Linked DNA regions of Homo sapiens: regions 2 and 3 are each linked to region 1. The links come from fine-mapping of genetic effects on gene expression. A gene starts in region 1. Each other region holds a variant in brackets. All regions are shown on one strand. Distances are between the middles of the regions. Region 1 holds the start of PRKD3 (protein kinase D3). Region 2 overlaps QPCT (glutaminyl-peptide cyclotransferase). Region 3 overlaps NDUFAF7 (NADH:ubiquinone oxidoreductase complex assembly factor 7).

Region 1 (8,278 bases):
GCTTGTAATCCCAGCACTTTGGGAGACTGAGGCTGGTGAATCACTTGAGGACAGGAGTTGGAGACCAGCCTGGACAACATAGTGAAACCCTGTCTCTACTAATAAATAAAATAAATAAATAAATAAATAAAAGATCTGGTCTTCTTCAAGTTCAGAAAAGGGAAGGGCAGATAGCGATCCCAGGAGGATGTGATAAACACTCAGTCCACAATAAAATGTGATGAGCCACATGAGAATTATCTCTCAAGGGCTATCAGAACACAGAACAATTATTGATAGCCTGCAAATCAGACAAGACAGTTCCAAGGATATAACAGTTTGAGCTAGTCTAGGACACCAACTTAAAGTCTGTTGTGGTAATCCAGATGTGAGATATGGACTAGGATAACGGCAGTGGAAACTGAGACAGGACATTTTGAGAACTATATCATCACGTATGTCTCTGCTGATAAAGAAATAGATCCTAAAGCATTTTCTCCCATAACTATTTTACTAACTCTATATTGATACCCAAATGCTTTATTGAATTTTTCAGCTGTGTTTCAAGGTCATGGAAAAAGACACAATCACAAAATAATTTTCCAGTGACCACATTCTATAAATTAAAACCAGCTGCAGTTTTAAAATGATGACAATTTCCTCTAGCTGGAAATTGTCATCAATTTCCCTAGTGAAAAAATTCACTGATTTAATCAACATTTATTGAGCACTGTGCTAAACGATGAATAAATAAAAATAAGGGCCATGCGCAGTGGCTCATGCCTGTAATCCCAGCACTTTGGGAGACTGCGGCGGGCAGATCATTTTTTCCCCCTGCATTTAGGTTTCTAAATCAGATGTCTCTGTTATCTCAAGTCACAAGAGTGTTGACTTTCTTTGCTTGCATTAGGTAACATATTTGAATGGCTATGTTGTGTGTCATTAAGTACAAGGAGCCCAATAATGCGGGACAAGCTCTCCAACTGCAGCCATAGAAGAGCAATATTGTAAGCTCGTTTTCATAAAACACCAGCAAGAAGAAAAATCCTTTCCATTTTGAGCATTCAGATTATATTTTCTCTCAAGGATTAAAACATTTCACATGGCAATACACTTATTTATTAAATTCAATCTTTATCTCTGTAATGCTCAGGAATGGAACACCTTGAGGAAACTGTAGTTCATGTTAAGCAAAAAATTAGATACAAAGATAGTTCTTTGATCAAATGTGCTGAAAGATTTACCCAAAGTGGAGGAGACCGCTTTATTTTTAAAAAGAGAAGCAGAACAGTGGAAATAAAATGAAATATATACATTACATATCTCTGTTTTCACACATGCACACAAATACTTAAATCTCTGTATAACAGCAGTTTGAATCGTCTGGAAAAGTTACTTCTAGGAAGAGTAACTTCTGTCACTTTAAGTACTACAGCAGAAAATGGAAGTTAATAGTGAGATAAGACTGGCTGTAAACTGCTCCAATGAGGTCCTGGGAATCTTGCTCAGAGGCAAAATTTGGGGCTGGACTAAAACGTCTGTTGGGAAGTGAAAGGAAGAAAAGGGCAAAGTTAAGCAAGAGAGTCCTTTAAAAAGAAGGCAAACTTGAGTAAATCTACTTTCAATTTTAAAGTAAAAGAATAGCTGAATAGGACTCTAATAACAAAAATATAGTAAGATTGAATTAGATACTGCTGGATGTAAGACATTTAGCAACTTCCAATTCCTGAGAATGTTTCAGAAATCTTTTTTTAAATAGATTTTTAAATAAAGTAATCAAGGTTTTACACAATCTTACCTGCCTTATGTTTAATATAAATTATCTTAATATTTTCATTTCTTAACTTTAAATCCGAGGACATCCATTAAGAGTGATGATTTTGTATCAAAAGTAGGGGCTAATTTATGTTTATTTTTCTTTCTATTCTTGAAAACTGCCCTCTTGGCTGGGCGCGGTGTCTCACGCCTGTAATCCCAACGATTTGGAGGGCCGAGGCGGGCGGATCTCTTGAGGTCAGGAGACCAGCCTGGGTAACACAGCAAGAGACCTCGTCTCTACAAAAACTAACTTAAAAGTTAGTGGGGCGTGGTGGCACACGCCTGTAGTCCCAGCTGCTTGGGAGGCTGACGCAGGATAATCACTTGAGCCCAGCAGCTCCAGGCTGCAGTGAGCTATGATCGTGTCACTGCACTTCAGCCTGGATGACAGAGTAAAACCTTTTCTAGAGAGAAAGAAGAAAGAGAGAAAGGGGAAAAGAAAGAAAAAGAGAGAAGAAAGAAAACTGCCCTCTTGATTGTAGTCCCTCTGATTGTTTCAATATATTTAAGTACTTTTGGGATAAAATGTTGACATAAGGAGAATCATGTGGCTTCTGTGACAATGCCTGTCAGCTTCTCAGGCCTTTCTCTCACATAAGACATCGAAAATTTATGCACAGTGTATTTTCCCTCTAGATCCTTATGCTGCTGACTCCCACTCCCGCCCCACTCACCCGACACGGTCATACTTTGTTTTGGAGCAAAACAAATGTTAACATTGTGTTTCCAGACACCTGGAAGCCCAGGTTTGGTGATTCTGGACTGCACTCCACTTTGGTGGTAGGGTCACATTCGCGTTTAAAGGCCGACGGGGAGGAAACACCGAGCACCGGGAAAACCCCTGCAGTCACCGGAACGTCGGGCTTGGGACGTGCCGGTTTGGGCGCCGAGCTGCGGTGCCGGCGGCCACCCCGGGGGCAGGCAGCAGGGAGGAGCATGCGGGAGGGCTGTGACATCTCAGGGTGGAAGCAGCTCTCTGCTCTGGACGCCTTACAAGTCCCCCGTTCCAACTATCACCTCTGGCCCATTGTCGCCACCGCCTCCCTCAAGAGTGCACGGCAGTAGAGGAAAAGACAGTACCGTCGGCAACAGCGCGATCAAGTACCGCGTGTAACTGATAGACACGCTCGCGACTCCCGCGGCGCCCCTGCCCCGTGCCCCCGCGCTCACGAAGACGCCCGGAACTCGAGGGTGCGGAGCCAGCCCGACTGTACCCGGCGCTCCCGGCGCCCCTTCGCGGGGCAGAGACAACCCCGACCTCCCGCCGCGGCCACCTCCCGGCGGGCGCGGGCCGAGGAACTACAGCTCCCGGCAGGCCCCGCGCTGGCCGCGCGCCCCCGCCCCCCGCGCGCCCCGGCCCCCCGCCCTCCGGCCCCAGGACGGGACGGGGAGGGAGGGAGGAAGGGGCGCCGGAGGCGGGCGGGATCCTGCGAGGCGCGTGAAGCCTCGCTGGCGCCTCGTCCGGTACTCAGACGCTGGCGGGCGCAGTTTCTCACGACGGGCCGAGCCTGCCACTGTAAGTAGTCGCCTCGGGGAGCGCTGAACAGACACCGAAAAAGTTCGCGCCGCCGCCGCCGCCGCTTTGTTCTCCCGGCCCGTCGGGCTGAGGCGGCGGCGGCCCCTCCCCCATCCCCCAAACCCCCAACCCCCCAACTGCACGCGGCGGCGGCGGCGACAGGACTCGGACCCCGCGCCGGGCTGGGCGGTGTCAGCCGCGCTGGGCGGGAAGTTGGGGGAGCGCGCGGCGGGAGGTGGGCGGCTGAGGGGGAGCGGGGGCGCCGCCGCAGCCGCCAGAGGGGCCAAGTTCCGGCGTCCGCGCGGAGGGCAACTTGGGTTCGCGCTCCGCTGGAGACCACCGCGCCCGGCCCATCGGAGGCGATCCGTTCCCGGGTCTCCCAAACTAGTTCCCGAAGCCAGACCCGCGGCGCTCGCAGTGCCGAATTTTGGACCAGCTTTTTCGTTTCATTTCCTCACTTTGCGTTGTAGTCGTCTCAAAGGGGTGAGTAAATGGTGCTTGGAGAATGTAAGCCCCTCGCCCCAGTATCCCGACTGCGTTTGGATTTGCTAGTTGCAGCATTGTTCCGAGTTGCTCCCTCCTGGGAGGTTTTCCTTAAGCTGAAACACTGAGGAGTGCCACTGTTTCTTTGAGCAGTGAAAATAACCATATACTACTGTATTGCCGGTTGGGTATTTTATTTCAGGTGAACGCAGTCAGAGGCATAGGCCTTGCCGTCTGCAGGCACACATACGATTCAAGCGACAAGTGTGTGCGCGCGACCTGCCGACTTTTCCACACACAGATTGATGGCATGGACGTAACTGTGTCTTCAATCACACCCATCCCCACAGGAAATAAGACTATCGGTGTCATCTTTGATTAGGAAGGATAAGTTACACCCTGAACTGCTGCTTGGTGCGACACAGCTTTTATGAGACATAGCCACAAATGGAACAAGAACTTTTAAATGCCTTAATTTGTATCCTAGAAAATGTTATTTTATTCCTCTGAAACTTTTTTTTTACCCTTCTACTTAATGTCGTCGTTCTTACATTTTTAGCGATTTTCATTTTCCTTAGCTTTGCTGCAGAAGGCGTCCATAAAGTTCCCCCGACTGAGATCTAGGCCAGTTTTTCCTTGTCAACGAACCCTTGCTTCCTTCCCTGTTAGATTCCGAGTTAAGATCAAGCATGGACATTCAGCCAAGAAGTTAGAAGATTTTCTAAAAGTAGGATTTGAAACGTGTCACACAGAAACCGTGGAAGGTTTTTCTTCAGTAGGTAGTAATACAGTTGTGGTGGGCCTGAGTGCATGAGCTTGGAGTACTCCTTGACGAGCCAGGTTCCATCCTCGGTTCTATAATTTAGTATATAGCATTTCACATTTCAGGGTGACTCAGGTTCTGTAATTTAGTATATAGCGTTTCACATTAAGAATGTTGACTGATGTGTATCTTAAAACTAATTTTTTAAGCATCCTAGATAATGGTAAGTCTTTTAGAGAAAATTTTAAGCTTTCAGTTTCATCAGATAGCCACTTTAAAATAGAAATTTCTTTCTGTTCGTGGATTTAAACACTGCCACACACACAGAACTTCATAAATAAAACTTTCTGATATTACATTTTTTTAAATTACGAATTGAAAACACCACATACAGAAAAATATGAATAGGTGGTCATTTAAGTGCAGTTTTCTTAAGGGACATTTTGTTCTCATTTTTTTAAAAGACTCTAAAGTTGAAAATACTACAGTGGAGTTAATTGTTCGTTTTTAAAAGAAACTGCTTGTACAGAGCTTGATATATAAGGAAATTCTTTGCTAGTACAAGTTTTAATTTGATATAATGCTGCTTATAATTCACAATCTTCTGTGATGATTGTACTTTGAGTCTCGCTGATTATGTAATTCAGATCGAACTTGCTATATATATATATGTATCTCTTTGAGTAGCCCTCTCAGGAAAAACTTGAGATAATGTGCTTATGAGATATTTTCATTTTAATGTAGGAAAAAAAATTTTTCCATTTCTGTGGTTAGTTTATTGTGGCAGTATGTGAGAAATTGCTCATTGGCTGCTAACCAATCAGATTTCTTAGCTACTACTGGTGCAGAGACTAACATCTGTCAAGCTCAACATGGATTCATATTGCATTGCCAGACTGGCAGTCCATAATCTTATTACTGGATAAACTTTTCAGTTCCTGAGCAGAGCAGATATGGTGTGCTCTCTCAGTACTCTCTGACAGTGGAAGGACTGAGATTCAACTGTCACTGGTCCAGATGAGCAGAATTTTAGAGGAAACAATTTAGCAAATGCTAAGCTCTTAGGAAAAGTATGTTAATCTAAAGTAATAGGTATTTTTGAAAATATATAAATCATTGTCGGGATTGCTACAAGATATGATTTTTTTAAAAACCAACGACGTAGACACTTGAGTTTTTAAATACAACATACAATATAAAAGCAAGAACAATTACTAAGCAAAGTCAAACCTATGTCAAAACATGGACATGGACTTTAGGACGCTGGTCAGAATTGCATTGAAAAAGGCCACATACTTTTACGTGGTAAAAGAATACTAATATTAATACATGTCAAGAGGCGTGGACACAACCCTCCACGTCATTAGCATTTCTAGTACACAAAACTTAAGTTGAACCTGGAAAACTCTTTACTGGGAGGAATTCATGTTATAATAAATATTGTTATTCCAATAGGAAAAGCATTTTATCTCTTCACTTTAGCCTTTGCTGAGTATTGTACAAAAAGAATGATGCTGCACTAAATAATGAACTTCTTTTTGAAGAATTTAATAACTAGATGCATTTTGCCTTCCTGGAATCCTTTTGTCTGTCTCTTTGCATCGTTGACTCTTGCTTATCCAGAGATCTCAGCTTAAATATTTCCTTAAAGGTACCTTTCCTGAGATTCCAGCTGGAATTGAGTCCCCTTAGTATACTCTGCCATATCACCTCTTGCAGTTTATAATTACCCAGCTGTTTGTATGAATGTTATGTCTGTGTCTCACATCACACTTTGAATTTCAGAGAGAGCAGTGGCCATGTCTGTTTCGGTCACTGCTCTATAACTCCAGTGTCTCTCATAACAGTCTGGGAAATAATAAGTACTAATTAAGTATTTGTTAAGTGGAAATACTGCTGTTAGAGCTTCTCCTAATTAGAGTGTTAAAAATGAGATAATGTGTGCATGGGGGAAGGGGAAGGAGAGGGAGAGGAAGTAGATAAACTTGTGATATTACCGTGAGATAATCCTCAAGTAAGTCCTCTCACCTCCAGGGCCTTTGTTTCACCTTGTCTGTAAAATAGGACAGACTGGGTTCAAGATGCCATTAATATCCTATATTTTGATTCCAGTAACAATGATGACAGATTATGTAAGCTCATTTGAATGGAATATGTGACAGCTAGCTCCCCAAAAGAATATTTGACAAGTTCTAAATAAACATATTAGAAATGCTTGCCAACTAGATGATATTATTTAGAGCCTCGTACCCCTGTTAGAAACAAGCATATATAATTGGTATATAGTTTGTAAATTAATAAGATGTACTCTTCTTTCAGTTTTCTAATTGAAGCGTAAAGACAAAATTAAGCAGCATATCAAGGTTCATGTAAGTTACAGTTATTAGGTTTAATATTTAGTTTTAATATTTTTCACCCAACATCTTGTTGCATCTTCCAGAGTAAATCTGGGGTCCATAAACCAAACCAGGAGAGGGAAAATGGAAAGAGTGGGCAGAAATCTGACAGCTCTTAGGTTTCTTCTATTTGTGTTAATACTGAGACTTTTAAAAATCATTTTTATATGTAGTGTTTATTATGAATAGTTGTAATTTGTTCTGATAAATTAGTTGTATTAAACACTGTTATTTGGCTAATATTACTAGGTATAATAAAATGATATTTAGTGGGAAGACATTCATCAAAGTAGAAGTAGTTAATTTGGGCCAGGTGCAGTGGCTCACGCCTGTAATCCCAGCACTTTGGGAGGCCGAGATGGGCGGATCACTTGAGGTCAGGAGTTCCAGACCAGCCTGGCCAACATGATGAAACCCCGTCTCTACTAAAAATCCAAAAATGAGCCAGGTATGGTGATGTGCACCTGTAATCCCAGCTACTGGGGCGGCTGAGGCACAAGAATCGCTTGAACCCGGGAGGCGGAGGCTGCAATCAGTCAAGATCGCGCCACTGTACTCCAGCCTAGGCAACAGAGCAAGTCTCTGTCTCAAAAAAAAAAAAAAAAAAAAAAAAAAGTCGTTAACTTGCATACAGTTTTATTCATAGATATTTTACTACTTTATTTTGGTAGTTCATCTTATAAAAACTACTTAAGTCAGATACGTTGTGGAGCTCATTACCTCGTGAGACAACCTGTTCCATTGTTAGGTTGTTGGATATGGAATAATGTGGTAGAAAGAACTTGGGCTTTGGAGTCAGGGAAACTAGTTTGAATCTCATTTCTATCACTTACTAGCTATAGTCACAGGCAAACAACAGCTTCTCTAAAATTCTTGTTTCTTTTCTGGAAAATAGAGTTAAACCTCCTAGAGTTGTTGCAAGGATTTAATAAAGTATCATATCTCACTTTATGTGTTTAGCATAAAGTAAAGGCTTAGTTGTTAATTCCTTCAACTAATTGCTGTGAAAATTGCTAAAACTTACTGAGCACTTACTGTTAGCCAGGTGTTGTTACAGATAGTTTGTACCCCGTAGCTCAATCCTTGCAACCTGTGAGGTTAAGTAAGAAGTGCTCTCATCTTCATTTTTCGTCTACCCTCTGCAGTGATACTGAATAAAATCAATTCTCCTATTAACACTTATTCAAGTATTTGAAAACCACTTATTCTGTTTGGTTTTGTTAAGCACATTTTTATCACATGACATTATTTTTACCTTTGCGTGCATGATTTTTTTTTTTTTAAATCAGTATGGCTCTAAAAATGTTGACCATAGATATAAAC
Region 2 (8,278 bases), 26 kb before region 1:
TCCTGGCCAACGTGGTGAAACCCTGTCTCTACTAAAAATACAAAAATTAGCCGGGCATGGTGGCGTGCGCCTGTAGTCCCAGCTACTTGGGAGGCTGAGGCAGGAGAATAGTGTGAACCCAGGAGGTGGAGGTTGCAGGGAACCGAGATCGCGCCACTGCACTCCAGCCTGGGTGACAGAGCGAGACTCTGAAATCGAAAGGAAGAGCTCAAGAGCTGGGCACCTGCGCCTTGCAGTTCTCAATCTAGGCACAGCAGTGGGTGCCAAGGTCTTTTGCCTGAGGAGTTTCAGAAGAGGATGTGAAGGGCCAGTCCCATTCCTTCCCAAGCGGCCCCTTAAAATGGGGCTAGTTTGAAAAAAACAGATATTCAGAGGTGAGGTTTCAGATTGCTTAGGAAGACTGACATCAGGGAGGCAAAGAGGCATTCAAGGTCTGGCCCAGCTTGTTCTACCCTCCACAACAGTGGTAAAATCAATGGGTCTTGAAATCAGTTTAGTGGGTTATGACCAGCATTTTTTAAGAACCAATAAAATAGAACTGACCATATTGCAGTAAAATGCTGTAAGAATATTTTTCGTGGAAGTTTTGTTTCAGTTAAATATGCCAGTACGTTTGTGTGTATAAAATGTAAAATTCATTTTTTTTTTACTTTGTGTCAGAGTCAGAAGTTTGAGAAGCACTGCCCTGGAGAAATGCGGCTAGCTTATCACCAGCCTTAACTCTCCCTCCAGGGAAAATACAATTTCCCTAAGGCGAGTGATGGCCTGACAGTACAATGATACTCTTGACTTAGAACCTTCAAGCAAGGACTCCCTAAGCCTGTTGCTGTTCATTGTTTAGGATTCAAGAAAACTTAATTGGGAGCCTCGGGGTGTGCTATTGAATGGTCAAGAGTGAAGGACTGTGTAATGTTGTACCCCAAATAGAGATTTCACACATAAACTATTGACATTAACATGTACCACTTAATTCAGAACAGACATGTACTCTCAGTCATTTGATTTTTCTTGGTTGACTATTTGGTGAATGAGGAGATGACAGATCTGAATATTAGACACCTCAGAACTTCAGCCATAACATTATCCCTCATGAGAAAGCACAGTATTCACACAAGCTTGAGGTTTGTGTCCCATGTTCTCACCTGACGAGCAGCATAGCTTCCAGGGGATCCCGGGTATCGCTCTATCAGCAATGGCTGTAAGTCATTTTGCCACATTTCAGAGATACTGGTGCCTTCTGCAATTTGCCGAAGAGCCGATGAATTCAAAATGGCTGGCTGGTGGTAATTCTGAGGATTGAATGAAATCATTTAACTAGCTATCCTTTCATAACATGTTTAAGACTCTGACATGTTTTCAATTAATTGCTTAAAACTTCAAAATAAGGGAGAACTTTATGTCAAATGAGGTAAATTAAACTACTCAACTTTAAAATTGGGCTGTTAGGGCTGGGCACGGTGGCTCAAGCCTGTAATCCCAGCACTTTGGGAGGCTGAGGCAAGAGGACTGCTTGAGCCCAGGAATTTGAGACCAGCCCTGGCAACATAATGAGACCTTATCTCTACAAAAAATGAAAAAATTAGATGGGCGTGGTGACGCATTGGTGCATGCCCGTTGTTCTAGCTACTTAGGAGGCTGAGGTGGGAGGATTGCTTGAGCCCAGGAGGTCAAGGTTGCAGTGAGCTGTGTTACTGAGCCCTCCAGCTGGGCAACAGAAGGAGACCCTGTCTCAGTAAAAATTTTAAAAATAATTAAAAAACCCAACTGTTAGCCTAAGTAAATCTTACACAGTATAGAGGGAGAGTAGTCAGGGAAGACTTTATAGATGAGCCACAAATTAAGGGGTCCTCGAATTTTAATAGGATTTTAATAGCAAGCCTAATTCAAAATTTTATAATGATTACATGTTGAAATGGTAATTTTTTGACATATTAGGTTAAATGAAGTATATTATTAAAATTAATTTTACCCCTTTTTCACTTTTTTAATGTAGCTACTAGAAAAATTAAAATTACATATGTTTCTTTCATAATCTTTTTTTTTTTTTTGAAGTTGGGGTTTCTCTCTGTCACCCAGGCTGGAGTGCAGTGGTGCAATCTGGCTCACTGCAACCTCCACCTCCCGGGCTCAAGCAATCCTCCCACCTCAGTCTCCTGAGTAGCTGAGTCATTATTTCTTTTTTATTATTATTATTTTAGATGGAGTTTCACTCTTGTTGCCCAGGCTGGAGTACAATGGCATGATCTTGGCTCACTGCAACCTCTGCCTCCCGGGTTCAAGCAATTCTCCTGTCTCAGCCTCCCGAGTAGCTGGGATTACAGGTGCATGCCACCATGCCCAGCTAATTTTTGTATTTTTAGTAGAGACGGGGTTTCATCATATTGGTCAGGCTGGTCTCAAACTCCCAACCTCAGGTGATCCACCCACCTCGGCCTCCCAAAGTGCTGGGATTACAGGCATGAGCCACCGCACCCAGCCCTGAGTCATTATTTCTATTAGACAGTGCCAACTCAGATGATTGTTGCAATTCCTTTCAGCCTGAGCTTGGTGAATCTATAGCCAACTAAATAGTAGACTTTTTAACTTCAATTAAAATTATTTTTAAATTGCATTAAAGTTCACATAACATTCAAATTTGTATTTTGGATGACTTCACACATACTGTATATTCTTATGATACTGGTAATGATGAACCATTCATTCATTACATGTTTATCAGGCACCTAATAATGGAATGTGTTACTCCTCCTCAACAGGAAGAGAACAATTGATCAGATGACTTCTTCCCTAAGGGGAAGGATGAGGATGACATAAGAATATTGAATTATTTGGAAGGCAAAACAGAAATTAGGAGAGGCCTATTTTATAGTTCCTTTCAGGACCAGTGTTAGCTGGATACGCTTAAATAGTCATGCAACTATTTTCATTCCATGTGATCGACTCCATGGGACTGGTGTGAAACTGGACTTCAAAGAATGCTTATTGCCTAATTATTTACACTCATCTATACTCCGAGATGGCTGTTTACTTTCCAGTACTTACCATGCAAAGAGCATGGGCTATAGGATCAGACAGACCCTCTCAACTCAGCCTCTCAACTCAGCACCCCACCACCTACTAGCTGTAAATCTTTCCAGGTTACTAAACCTCATTAAGGCTCAATTTCCTCATCTGTAAAACAGAGGTAGTAATACCTGAATCCTAGGGTAAATAGAATTAAGTGAACTAACATATGTAAACTGCCATAGTAAATATTCAATGTGTTAGTTACTATTTCCTTCTATCAAACACTAAAGAGCCATAGAATGAATTTTAAAGTTGGAAAAGCCACTTAGAGATGCTCTAGTCTCCAACCTCCTTCATTTATATTAGTGGAAACTGAGATTCATAGAAACCAGCTGACTTCCTGAGGTTGAAGGAGAGTTACAGGTAAATCCACAAAAAGATCCGCTGTCTGGGGATTTCCAATCCCATGCTAGTTTTACTCTGCCTCACTGTCTCATTTATGCACTTCCAGTTTATTCCTGAATATTGGTGCTGTGCCTGAACATCAGAAGATTTGTCTTTGTTTATTGGTAGGACATTTTTAAATATATTTCCTTGATAAACTTGTCAGTGCAGGCTTTAAATCCCTTGGTACCTCCAGGATCTAAGTCCTCATGCCAGCTCCCAAACAACAGTTGGAAAAGAAAGCTGAAGCTGAAAGACAAAGCAATAGAAATGTGCGAAGGGATAAGAAGAATATGGAGGCAAGAGGTCAGAAGACTTCCATGGTTAATTATTACTCAACCCTGCCAACAGAAGCCTGTCTGGTCTCCCCCCTCACCCTTGCTCA[C/A]CATGCTTCGGTCACTCTGGCATTTGGCCAGGCCCCAAATGCTCTGAGGTTCTGCCCCCATGAGGCTTTGGCATCTGCGGTGCTTTCTGCCTTACAAGCTGTTTCCCCTCCTCTTCACCTGGCTAACTCCTGCTCACTTCAGCTTGCAGCTTGGAGGCCACTTCTTTGTGTGTTTACTTGTTTAATGTCTGTCTTTCATACAAGACATCAGCTCCATAAGGGCTGGAACTCCCTCTCTCTCTGTTGTTTACCTCTCTCTCCCACACAGGCCACACAGGGCCTGGTTCATCTTGAGCATTTGATAAATATTGGGGAAATTAATCAAAAAAGCAATCAACAGATGAACTATCTTTCTAAAATTATCTTTGCTAAGACTGTATTTATATAATAATAAAGTAACATGGGCATTTTTCTGCCACTGTAAATAATAAATCAGCTGAATGCACAAGCAAGCATAAAGACAGAAGAGACAGGTGGCTACCTGCTGCAATGGCCAGGAAGTGCTGTGGTTCAATGTTATTGGGCTTTGCTCTTTTTGAATTTCTGACATTCGATGCTTCTGACGATGAAGAGCTGGGTTGACCCAAGCAGTCACTATGACAACCAAAACTGTTGTGTCAAAAGCTGTTTACCAGTGGCTCCTTGTCTGCTTACTGTCCAATACTCTATCCCAAAGCCCATCTGGTCACTGTGGATAGAAGCTTTCACTCCATGTCCAGAGTGAAACGAAATCACTTGTGTTTAAATGGCTGGTTTCTAGAGGCTTGAAAGAGCTCTTAAGACATTTAAGAAAAAACAGGAACAAAATAAATGCCCCCTCCCCCAAGCATCTTTAACTACAAGAGATACTGCAGATGAAACCTAATTGGCAAATAGCACCAAAAAATGCTTAATGGATGACTAAAGGGTAAATCCAGCAGACAGGCCAGGCCTATTGATGCTTATGAATCTAGAGACTTACATGTGTTTGCTCCTCAACCTCCTGGGCTCAACCATTTAATTAACATACTTCAGTAAAGAGCCCTGACTCTCCTTGCCCCTCTGGGGGCAAAGATGCCCCTGTAAAATCCCAGAGCTAAAAGCTTCCCAGTAACTGAAGGACAGAGAAGAGGAAACAACCAACTACACTCAGTCAACTACTTAAGCCTTCTATTCATTAAAGCCCTGTGTGGAAAAGCATTTGACTTTCCCAACCTAAATAGCATGCATTCAATGTTTGAGGGGTCTTATTCTCAGAACTCAATAGATATACAAATTTAGGTGGAGATGAGATGAATGAGTAAGAGGAAAAAGCTGGAAAGAAAGAGCGAGCTCAGCAGGGGGAAAGTAACTCAGGCAAAAACAAAGTTGAGCCCAATGGTAAATGCAAACCCCAATTTATTGTAGGTTTATCTCAGTTAAAAGACACTTAGACAATTTTCTATTGGTGCAGGTGTTCTCAGAGGAATGAGGCTCTGTTACAGCCCCTGCCTTGTCTTTTCATCCAGACAGAAAGGACAATAAGTCTGCTCTGAGTGCAAGAATCTTTCAGCCAAAAGTGTGAACCAGATATCCTGAAGCATCTCTTCTAGGCTAATCATGTGGTTTTAAAGAGGGTTTTAATTACATAATTGATAGAGTTGGCCCAGCTTGCAAAGGGTTTTGAGGTTCCAAAAGACTGAATTAAAGGGAGATCATTACAGAAATGCAGCCAATGCAAGTCCAGTTTCTATTCTATATGAATGTCTCCCGGGCAATTCTCAGATTAACACCTCTGTCTGTCTGCAAAGTCAGCTCAATCAGCAGTTACTGAACTCCTTCTGTGTGTCGGATGCCACTGATATAAAAAATTCAGTGGGGGAATAGTTAGGAACTGAACAAGACAACATCTGTCTTTTCTAAAATGCAAGCAGCCCTCTACTTAAAAGCAGAGCCGTGCGGGCTTTAACCACAACAGCTTAGGGTGAAATCTCAGCTCCCTCGCTTATTAGCTGTGACTAGGAAAGAGTCCATATCTGTAAAATGGATCTCATGATACTTACCAACTAGATGGTAAGGCTCCAAAATGACATTTTGTCTTTCTGTCCCTACCAACACCCAGCCCCCAACTAACTTCCACGTCACTGCCTGAGAGTCTCCGTCGTTGCTTCCATTAGAATGCAACAACAACAATAACACACACACACACACACACACACACGCGTGCGCGCGCAGAGAGAGAGAGATAGAAATAAAAACACCAAAATGGTTAATAGCCATTATCTCTGAATAGTGGGGTTATGGGTGACATTAGTTTTCTTTTTAGTGTATTTTTCTGTATTTTCCAAGTTTTCTAAAATGAGCACATGTCAACTTTATAATTAGAAGACTTCAATAGAAGGCAGACTTTTTAGTTTATCGAAACTAATATTTTTAAAGAGCATATAAAGCCCTCAAAAGCCATCAGTCATTCGCACCTAAGGAAGAATGATTTAATGAGATTCTGTTTAATAGCTAGTTGACAATGTTGTACTAAAGGAATGGGCCTGTACTAAAGGAATAAGACTGGTGACCAAAAGGCCTGGGGAAGATTCAGAAGAAGTAACTCTGGAATATGGATTAGCACCCAGACTAATGATGACCTTTAAGCTGCATGAAGGAGATCAAGGAAAGGAGAAAATAGGGGGTGTCAGAAGAGAAGGTACCAAAACCAAACTACCTGTTTTAGAATGCCATTTAGGGTCCACCCTGACCCAGAAAGAGAGAGTAAGCTCTTCATCTGGCCCTCCAACTTCCCTGCTAGCCCCACACTTTTTCACTACCTGGGCACTGTTCCGGGTACATCAGCCAGGACTCATCTACCATTAGAAAAGCACAGAAGAAGAAAGGAGAGATCAGGGCTTAAGCCAAACCCTAGCTCTTCAGTTCACTAGTGCAATAGTTGTCAAGTTTCCTCAACCATAAATTGAGGATGAATGTACCTTCCTCATGGGGCTTGCTGTGAAGTTCAAGTGAGGTGGATGTATATATATATATGTTATATATATATATATGTTATATATATATGTTATATATATGTTATATATATATGTTATATATATATGTTATATATATATATGTTATATATATATATATATATAAAACACCCCATACCCAGATGCCAATGCCTCTAAATACACAGGTGTGTGCCCACCTGGGAGTTTAACAATTTATAATATTGTTACTATGGAAAAATTGTTTCCAGGTTTCAAATACATAATCAAATCATGGCCTCTGAATGCCACCATAAACTACAGTTGATCTGCTTTTACATATTCAAAGCCACTGAAAGAGAAACATCTTTATTTCAAAACGAAGGAAATGGATTTCAAAATCAATGCTTTCTTTACCACACCTCACCTGTTAGCAGACCAGTGTACCAAAGACATACATCATATGATTAAAATAGTCGAACACCATAAAAAGTAGGAAGGCACATATTTTAGTGTGGACCGATTCATCACCCAGGCTGCAAGACTTTATGAAGGTCTACAGAATAAGGGGAGGAAGCTAGAAACTGGGAAATGTGATGGCTGATTGTCATTTGCTTTTAATGATTTGAAAACATTCAGTTTCTCAATGGAACAGTGATCAGAAGCTTCTTAAAATAAATATAAAAGGGATTCATGCTTTAAAAGACGTTTCTCAAAAGTTAAATTCTCATTGGTTTAAAATATTTTAAGAATCACAGCACCTTTTCCCACCCATAAATACCCCCTGCCTACACACACCTACAAATGATCTTTTCAGAGTGGTTTGTTCAGTTTCCATCTCATTTATTCCCTTCCATTTAGATGTATCACAAAGATACATTTGGTGTGGCTCCATATTCCAGTCTGTAATGTTCTCTTCCCAATTTCTGACCAGAAGGGTATTCTCAGTGAAGAGAAGGAGAGGATTTTTTGTGTGTCATTCCACGTTCTTCTTCATGGGCCCCCATGGGAAGTTGTTTTCCTTAAAATAAAGTTATTCTTATGTTACAGACTTCCCTCACTACCACCAGGTTCCCTGTGGCCTGTGGTCTCCATGTGTAAGTGGGGCCTGCTGTGACCCCTGAGTGGTGATTACATTAGATCCGAAGAATTGAAATGGGCTATTCATATATATATGCATGTAGCTGGGTGGGAGTGGGCATTTACCAGCGTGCCCTGTATTTCAAACATTTGAGTAAATACAGGCATACTCTAAGTGTGTAAAAGGTCTGCTCAATAACACTGCCAAAGTTTATATCGCTTCACTTTGCTGCTTTTCTTAATATCTCTATAACATACTATTTTATGCTGACATCATTAATATTTGCACAATCCCTTAGCAATTTCATGATTTCAAAACTGTTACACAAGAAAAGGAAGTAATTGTGAACCCATGTAATTGTGAACCCATATACTTCTTTTTTTTTTTTTTTTTTTTGAGACGGAGTCTCGCTGTGTCGCCCAGGTTGGAGCG
Region 3 (8,000 bases), 80 kb after region 1:
CATTCCTCTGATATCTTCCACCTTGAAGTCTCTGATGAGGTAGCAAGGCAAAAAAGTTAAATCTCTCTCCCATCTTCTTTGGATTCATTAACATATCATATCCTTGAAGTAACTGCTGCCTCACTGATGGCTCATTTGATTTATCTAAAAGAACCTGAAAAGAAAAAAATTCTTAGCAAAAATAACCAGAAGACAGGATTCCTAGTTACATGCAGCAATACTAATGACTCTCAAATATTCCAATAAAACAGCACTCAAAATGTGACTTCTGATTACCTGCCTGAGAATCATAGAGTACTTATTAAAAATGTAGATTGGTGTGAAACAAACCTAAGGATTTGCATTTTTAACAAATATCCTCAGGGGGTTTGATCTACAGTAAGGTTTAGGTGTTCTCAGAAGAACAGTTAGAAAATTCATACCCATAAACGCAGTTTTCTTAACAAACAAAAACACTATTTGGAAGTCTTAATGCTACCTCCCATGGAGATGCATAAAACTTACCAGACTAGTTACTAAATCCTATACTACCTGAAAAGACTGGAATACCAAGGATTGGCTAACTACAAGAGCATTAAGGCCAGGTGAACATACTATTTAAAGTAATTTTTGAAATACTATGAAAGTACTTAATAACAGTGAAATAAAATAAACCTTACCTTCAGCCGGACATCAATACCCATATTTTTTAAAAATGTGTGTTGTTTTATTGGGCCCAGAGAGGCTACTTTTCCCTGTGCCATTCTTCGCAAATAACTGAAGTCCACATCAGCTGTTAGATCTGCTGTTCCTGGGGCAATTAAGACATCATGAAGCTTGTGGTCGCAAAACCCCTTGAACATAAAGAAATCAGATTTTTGCCCTTTTATGGTTATTAAGATTAAAGAAATGCTATCATATTAAAGTTATTTAATATTTACATTAATGCTTGAGGTGACGGAATAGAGCTCTCATTAATTCTCTAGGCAGGGAACACCTAGGCAGTGTTTTACAAAGTATATGCATCAACCATGCATCAGAATCACCTGAGATACACTACAAACTACTACACAGCCATAAAAAAAAATGAAATCACGTCCTTTTCAGCAACGTAGACATAGCTGGAGGCCATTATCCTAAGTGAATTAATGCAGGGACAAAACCAAATACCACATGTACATCTCACTTAGAGCTAAACACTGGGTACACGTGAACATACTTATGGGAACAAACACTGGTGACTACTAGAGGGGAGACAGGAGGAGGGGAACAAGGGCTGAAAATCTATCTACTGAGTACTATGCTTGCCACCTGGGTGACAGGCTCACTCGTACCCCAAACCTCAGAGTCAATGCAATATACCCATGTAACAAATAACAAACCTGCCTCATGTACCCCCTAAATCTAAAATAAAAGTTGAAATTACTTAAAAAAAAATCACCTGAGAATATATTACTGACCCTAACCAGACCTGGTCAGTCAGAATCCTGGAGGTAAGGCTAGAGAATGAGTATTTTCAACAAACTATCCAGGTTATTTTTAGATAAAGTTAGAAATTAAGAACCACAGACCTAGAAAATGACTAAGAGCATTTAGTTAAATGTTTTTCAATTAAAGTATATTGAATAGAATTGATTATATTCAAAGATCATTAAGAAAGGATGTTTAGGAACAGTGTAAAAGAATACATCTGGAAAGGGAAAAAATGTTGAAAATATGATAGAAAAAGCTAGAATGATTACAGTAGGTAGTTTAAATCTGTAAAGAAGTACCAAAATTTTTCTTGAATGAAGGGGGTTACAGATAGGTTTAAGAATGTGAAGAAAATCTTTCCATTTGTATTATTCAGCTGCTTATCTGGATTTATATAAACATAGGTTCTACAACTAAGGAAGAATGTACACAATTCAGATCCTGTTAAAGGAGGGCTGGACAGTAGACTCAGTGTTAGCAGTAAGAACTAGGGTTAAGGGGAATTACAATAACATGAATTAATGTTAACTATAAAATAATGTAATACAACAATACCAGGCACTGTAGAAATCAAAGCTCTTCAATGGGCTTCAGATCTAACACTGAAATTCTGATAAATCATGTTACTGAATTATACATACTCTGAAGGTATCTGTCTTTGTTCCATCATGACCATAATCAGCAACCAGTGCAGCACCTCCAGTTAATGCAATGCGTTGAGAAAGTTCCTCGATGATAACACCAGCATCAGGACACACTTCAACATGATCCCTTGTTTCGTCATGCTAGTAAAGGGATCATTGCAAGAGTCAAAATGCATCATTCAAAAGAATGACTTCCTTACGGTTTTTCAGGTTTTTCCTCAATGAGCATTTCTTAGTTTTAATAAAAATAAATTCTTAATATGAGTATGTTCTCTACACTCAACTTTTCACCTGACTCCCTTTTTATTATACAAAACTCCTTAGTTCTTTGATGCTATCCCACTTGATATACAAAGACATTTTAATCTCTTTTATAAAAAGGCAAATGCCCTCCCAATCCCCCCAGATGGCCTAGAGCATTATCATTTAATGTAAAATTACTTTTGTATCACAAATCATATAAACACATTCCTCTAGGTTGAAAGCATGGGAAAGGGATTTTTTTTGTCTGCCTAGAACAGTGCCAGGCACATAACAGTCAATGAAAATATTGTGCTGAAAGAACAAATGGTATAAATCCAATAACACGAAGCAGACCCTATTAGACAATTATATTATCATGCCCTCTGTTGTGCCAGAAAGTATCCCAATGATATGCCCTACATCAAGAAACGCTGGCTTATAAACTAGTGCCAATGTATTGAAACCGTTATTACCCCAAGATGTCCACTTAACTAAGGGGCCACAATAAGTGTGTACTAGCTTAAAAAGCAAAATCACACTAAGTATTAACACTTGTCAACCTGACTAGTATATATGAAATTTCACTACTTCCTGATCTGATTGAAAATGTGGTATTTCTTTCCCTTCATTATGAAAACATACATTAACTTGTACTCCTTCCTAACACCTTATTATAGAAATGCAGTAATGACCTGCCCTGATGTCTGCCTATGGTAACAGGCATAGAGTCAGATGAAGTTAAATCTCAGCTCTTCCTATGCTTACTGGTAGACAAGTTACTTAAACTTTCTGAGTTGTTTTCTTCCTTATAGATATTGTAGGTTTATTGTGAGGATTAAATATAACTAACCATTTAGCTAATAGTGCAATCAAATTACTGTGGCTTAACTATAAAAACCATGAAGTCAGCCTCATCAGGCATCAGTGGACACGCTGATCATGCTGACATTCTATCTTAGGCTACTCTTCAAGATGACATGTATTACCACGCATCTCATTCAAGTGAAAGAGAATATTCGCTCCCTCCCTTCCTAAGTGAATACTAATTAGGTCAAGAACTAAATGAACTCCCAGGGCCAGGAGGTTAGTTCTTGGTAGTTCTATGAATATGTCATTCAGGTAAACTTAGATTGCTATACTATGAAAAAACAGGTGTTCATAAGTGTTCAGTCTGACATTTAAATTTATACTTAACAAAACTTAATTCATACATTTAAGTTTAAAAGCTCTTGTGCTTTTAAAACTGATAATTTCTAAGTAAGAAGTTCTCAGTTAAGGTCCAGAAAGTAAAAATCATCTTCTGAGCTGGAAAAAAAGGATTAAAAAAAAAGAGGCAGTCTGAAGCCTGGACGTTCCTGAGAAGTACAGGGATTTTTTTGTACCTTTAAACAAGCCACAATAGACAGGCTCTTGCAATGATTCCTTGAGATCAACAGAAAGCAGTAGTAATTCTACCATTCTGGCCGAATCAAACTGAGATCTGTGTGGAAGCATGGGATAAAAGCCATGCTGTAGCCCAAAGAAGGATAATAATAGAACCTACCTAATATAGTTGCTTTGAGAATTAAATGAGAAAACAGAGTAACACAAAGTACTCAACAAACGTTAGCTGTTATTGTTAATTTACTATAGTCTGTACTACATTGCTTTCACAGATGTAAACTCTTCCTGTGGACAATACCATTACCATTTGACATGAAACTGAGATAAGCAGTGAAAGTAAGAGACTTGGCTGAGTAAGCGGTTACTTACTTTCTCTTACTACATGACGTTAAGGTCACACACTTAAGAAATGATTTTAACCCATGCTCCTGCCTCTAGCTCCTCTGCACTTTCACTGTCAATAAAAAGCACCTCGTATGCTACTAGCAACTCTTCCTGTAAAGGAACTCTAAAACTCTAAAGTAGTAACTCAGAAAATAAGACTTTGAAGATTCTGTGAGCAATAAAAGAAACTTAAAAAAGCATATTCTTACTTGTATGAAGGCTTCTGCTGGGGTGGCAGAAGGTGCCAAAACAAACCTCAGTTTATCAGAAACCTGTGGATCAATGTCAACAAATACTTCTCGCCATCCCTGTGGTGTTTTCTAAACACAAAATAACACATAAAAACAAATTTTTGCAAGTTTGTTCTCTACATTGCTTCTACCAAAAATAGCTTTTTCTCCTCTTACCATAAGTAACTAACATTTACAGAGAACTTACTATTTAAAATTACTTAAATTCATTACTTCATTGCCTTTGAACAATGAGTAGACCAATCGATGCAAAAGAAACAATAACAGAGATGACGCTGTGGAAGATAAAATCAGCAGCATGGAAAGTACCCCAAAAACGGAAATAGACTCAGGAAGAACAGCCAGAAGCTTTACTAACAAATTACTACAGGATCATGAGAGCTGCTCTTCTCCTCACAAATTACCAGTACATATACATTATCACCAAATCTTAAATCTCCTCACAGAAAGAATGAAGAAAAGTTTTATTATTTTTTTTTTGAGACAAGCTCTCGCTTTGTTGCCCAGGCTGGAGTGCAGTGGTGC[A/C]ATCTCAGCTCACTGCAACCTCTGCCTCCTGGGTTCAAGTGATTCTCATGCCTCAGCCTCCCTAGTAGCTGGGAAGTACAGGCACGTGCCACCAAGCCCAGATAATTTTTCTATTTTTAGTAGACACAGGGTTTTGTCATGTTGGCCAGGCTGGTCTTGAACTCCTGACCTCAAGTGATTCACCCACCTCGCCCTCCCAAAGTGCTGAGATTACAGGTGTAAGCCACCATGCCTGGCCCAAAAAAGTTTAATCTATAATTTTTTAAAATGTGCTAAGGTTGGCTGGGTGCAGTGGCGCACACCTGTAGTCCCAGCTCCTTGGGATGCTGAGGCAGGATGAACACTTGAGCCCTGGAGTTCAAGACCAGCCTGGGCAACATAGCAATACCCTATCTCTTAAAAAAGAAAATTTTTTTTTTGCTTAAGTAAATCCTTCATTGCACCACAGCCAGTTACCATCTTACCATTTTTCATTCCCTTACTTCTTCAAATCAGAAGAATTAAGAATTCTTAATAATTATCCCAGGAGAACTAACAATTCTCATTAATATTTCATTTTTTGCTTTTGAATTATTTGTGTACCAAAATTCCAAATAATAGTTAAAAATAACCTCAACAAGTAAAATTTGTATACTGAATAAATACCATAAACATTGGCAACACAATGCCTTTTGTATTCAATTATAGACATGACTTTTTTCCCCCCTCAATACCTGAAATTTATGCACAGGAAGAACATCAAAAAATTCATGTGCAAGATAAAAGCTGTACCCTATTTAAAAAGAGGAAAACAATTAATGTTTCCACATTTCACAGGAATTAATTCTTTTGAATATTAACTGTAAAAAAAATGCCTACTTCCTCCATAATCATCACTACCACAGAATTATCTACCTCTTCATGGAAAACTTACACTGCAGAACATAGAACAATTATTACTATTCTTATTTTACACATAAATGGGGTCAGAAAATGGAAATACCTGAAATAGCAGTTAAAGCTTTTATTCATCACAAGGCTTGAAAGAAATTAGAAGTCAGAGTTGTTAGCTGGAAGGGAATTTGATTTCATAAAATCGGGCTTCTCAGCCTGAGAAGGCTGAGGCAGGAATGGCTTGAGATCCCTTACCCAAGATCGTACCCCCACTTTGGCTTTGAGTCAAGACTCAAACTAGTCAATACTAGTCAGTATTCCTGACTAGTACAGGGATTTTCCCCCACACCTTGCTTGTCTTTAGGCAAGTAAGGATTTTTTAAAAGACTCTATAACTGAACTAAACCCACCTACTAACACTGCTTCCATCAGCCCCAGCTGCCTTGGGCTGCTCCGTCATCGGTACAACCCTAGCTATAGGGAAATACTCAAAAGTACAAAGGAGATTTACATTTTGTTTGGGATTTTACAAAGCTTCATGAAATAAACTACTACTTAATGTCAGGCAACTTTATTTTCTATTAAGATGCTCTTTTCTAGAAAAAAGTAGGCTACTCTCTATGGATAAGGGACTTGGCAGCAGTAACTCAATCTATTATATTGCTGTAAAAAGTTACAGTCCCATCAATACTGTGAGGGTTGTGATCAAAATTCTTTCATTAATCCACATAAAGGTAATTACCTTTTGGAACATCGTGCAGATCTCGGTACCAGGAAATTGGAATCCCAGACTTAGTGACACCTTTCATATACACTGGGGATCCAGCATTTCGCTCTAACGGGACCTTCTCTTTAGTCAGTGTCAATGCTTGAATCTCACTTAATTTTTGGCTTACCTCTACCAGATGTACTGAAATGTCACAATTTTTCAGCACAGATCCAAGTTGAGTGAACACCTAAATACCAAAAGAAGAAAAAAAAATACAATGTGTTAAGTAGGTTTTAAGTTTCCTAATCATTTACATCAATGATTTAGTCATGTCACAATAGAGGTAATATTTCAGAGAGATGTGTTCCTTACCCAAGCCACTCTCCAGCAGTCTATAAGAATCCTAACCTACTAGTTATTAAGCATAATCTAAATAAGAAATGAACAATGCACAATTTGGTTTCCTAATGATAAATTATGATTAACAAATGAAAATAAAAGATTTGGCATCTGATAAAAACAATGATTCAGATTATGGAGTCTAAAAAAAGACCAAGGAAATAAAATGTACACAGCCTTGATTTGATAACATCTCTAGGTCTAGGAAGTAATCTCATCTTTGAGATGATGAGAACTCTAACCTCAAAGAACCAAATCTGAATGGTACTGAAAACCTGACTGCTTAACTCGGGGGTCTGCCACATTTTCAATCTATATTTAGCTACACATTTTTTCACTGTTGTAAACATGCAAGGGAAAAAGGAAAATACTAATATTTTACCAATCTTTTAAGGCTAAAAAATCAATAGCAAAAGCATAAAGTGTATCAACATTATTTTTCATTTGAATTTAATTTCTACTGGTGATCTGCCTCCAATTAATACTTTTGAGATATGAATATGCACATCCAGACTGATAATATGAACAAGATGATTTTTCCAAATTTAGTTTTGAGATCGAAATACAAATGGAAAAACTTCCCAGGAGAAATTCCTTCAGAAGGTAACATCAAAAATAAAACAGGTCTGACACTTCTCTGGCTATTTGCTTTACAACCCTTTAAATTCTTTGGCTTTTAGGACTTCTTATGACTCAGTCTGGAAAAGCATCCTTCATACATTTTAAGGGCTCTGGAATCAACTTTTAAAGTACTTGAACAAGAGAATATGATTTGAGGTCCTTATTAAATATTTTATATTCAAATGACCTTGCTGAAAAACATAAAATAGAGCCCTGGAAATTTAAATTCGTGATTTTGTTTTCTTTCTTCACCCAAATAATCAAGATTCTTATTTGTCATATGTTTATATATTTTATATATTTTTTAAATCCTTTAATTTCTAATTTAAAGCAAAAACCATAAAGCATCAAGAAATTTAAATTTATATTGAGTATGTGTTGGTGTTTTTTGGTTTTTTTTTTGAGACAGGGTCTCACTTTGTTACTCAGAGGCATAATCACAGCTCACTGCAGCCTCAACCTCCTGGGCTCAAGCAATCCTCCCATCTCAGCCCCTCAACTAGCTTCGACCACAGA

Evidence for each region.
Region 2: its variant is fine-mapped to the expression of PRKD3 in whole blood (TOPMed, PIP above 0.99). The same link has a PIP of 0.9 or more in blood mononuclear cells.
Region 3: its variant is fine-mapped to the expression of PRKD3 in whole blood (TOPMed, PIP 0.97).

What each region holds. Positions count from the first base shown.
Region 1 is chr2:37,319,716-37,327,993 of GRCh38, reverse strand. It overlaps PRKD3 (protein kinase D3), which reads left to right and starts at 3,161. Exons shown (of 19, transcript NM_005813.6): 1 at 3,161-3,313. It overlaps PRKD3-DT (PRKD3 divergent transcript), which reads right to left and starts at 2,913. Exons shown (of 2, transcript NR_183394.1): 1 at 2,472-2,913; 2 at 1,230-1,517. RefSeq lists a silencer at 2,801-3,430 and an enhancer at 4,071-4,150.
Region 2 is chr2:37,345,800-37,354,077 of GRCh38, reverse strand. QPCT (glutaminyl-peptide cyclotransferase) reads right to left here. Exons shown (of 7, transcript NM_012413.4): 2 at 1,143-1,289. Among named protein-coding and RNA genes, the nearest start is that of QPCT, 5.3 kb to the right of the region's middle. The variant C/A (reference allele first, on the strand shown) is at 3,836.
Region 3 is chr2:37,240,289-37,248,288 of GRCh38, reverse strand. It overlaps NDUFAF7 (NADH:ubiquinone oxidoreductase complex assembly factor 7), which reads right to left. Exons shown (of 10, transcript NM_144736.5): 5 at 6,498-6,711; 6 at 5,596-5,654; 7 at 4,316-4,426; 8 at 2,094-2,237; 9 at 660-833; 10 at 1-154. Among named protein-coding and RNA genes, the nearest start is that of NDUFAF7, 13 kb to the right of the region's middle. The variant A/C (reference allele first, on the strand shown) is at 4,883.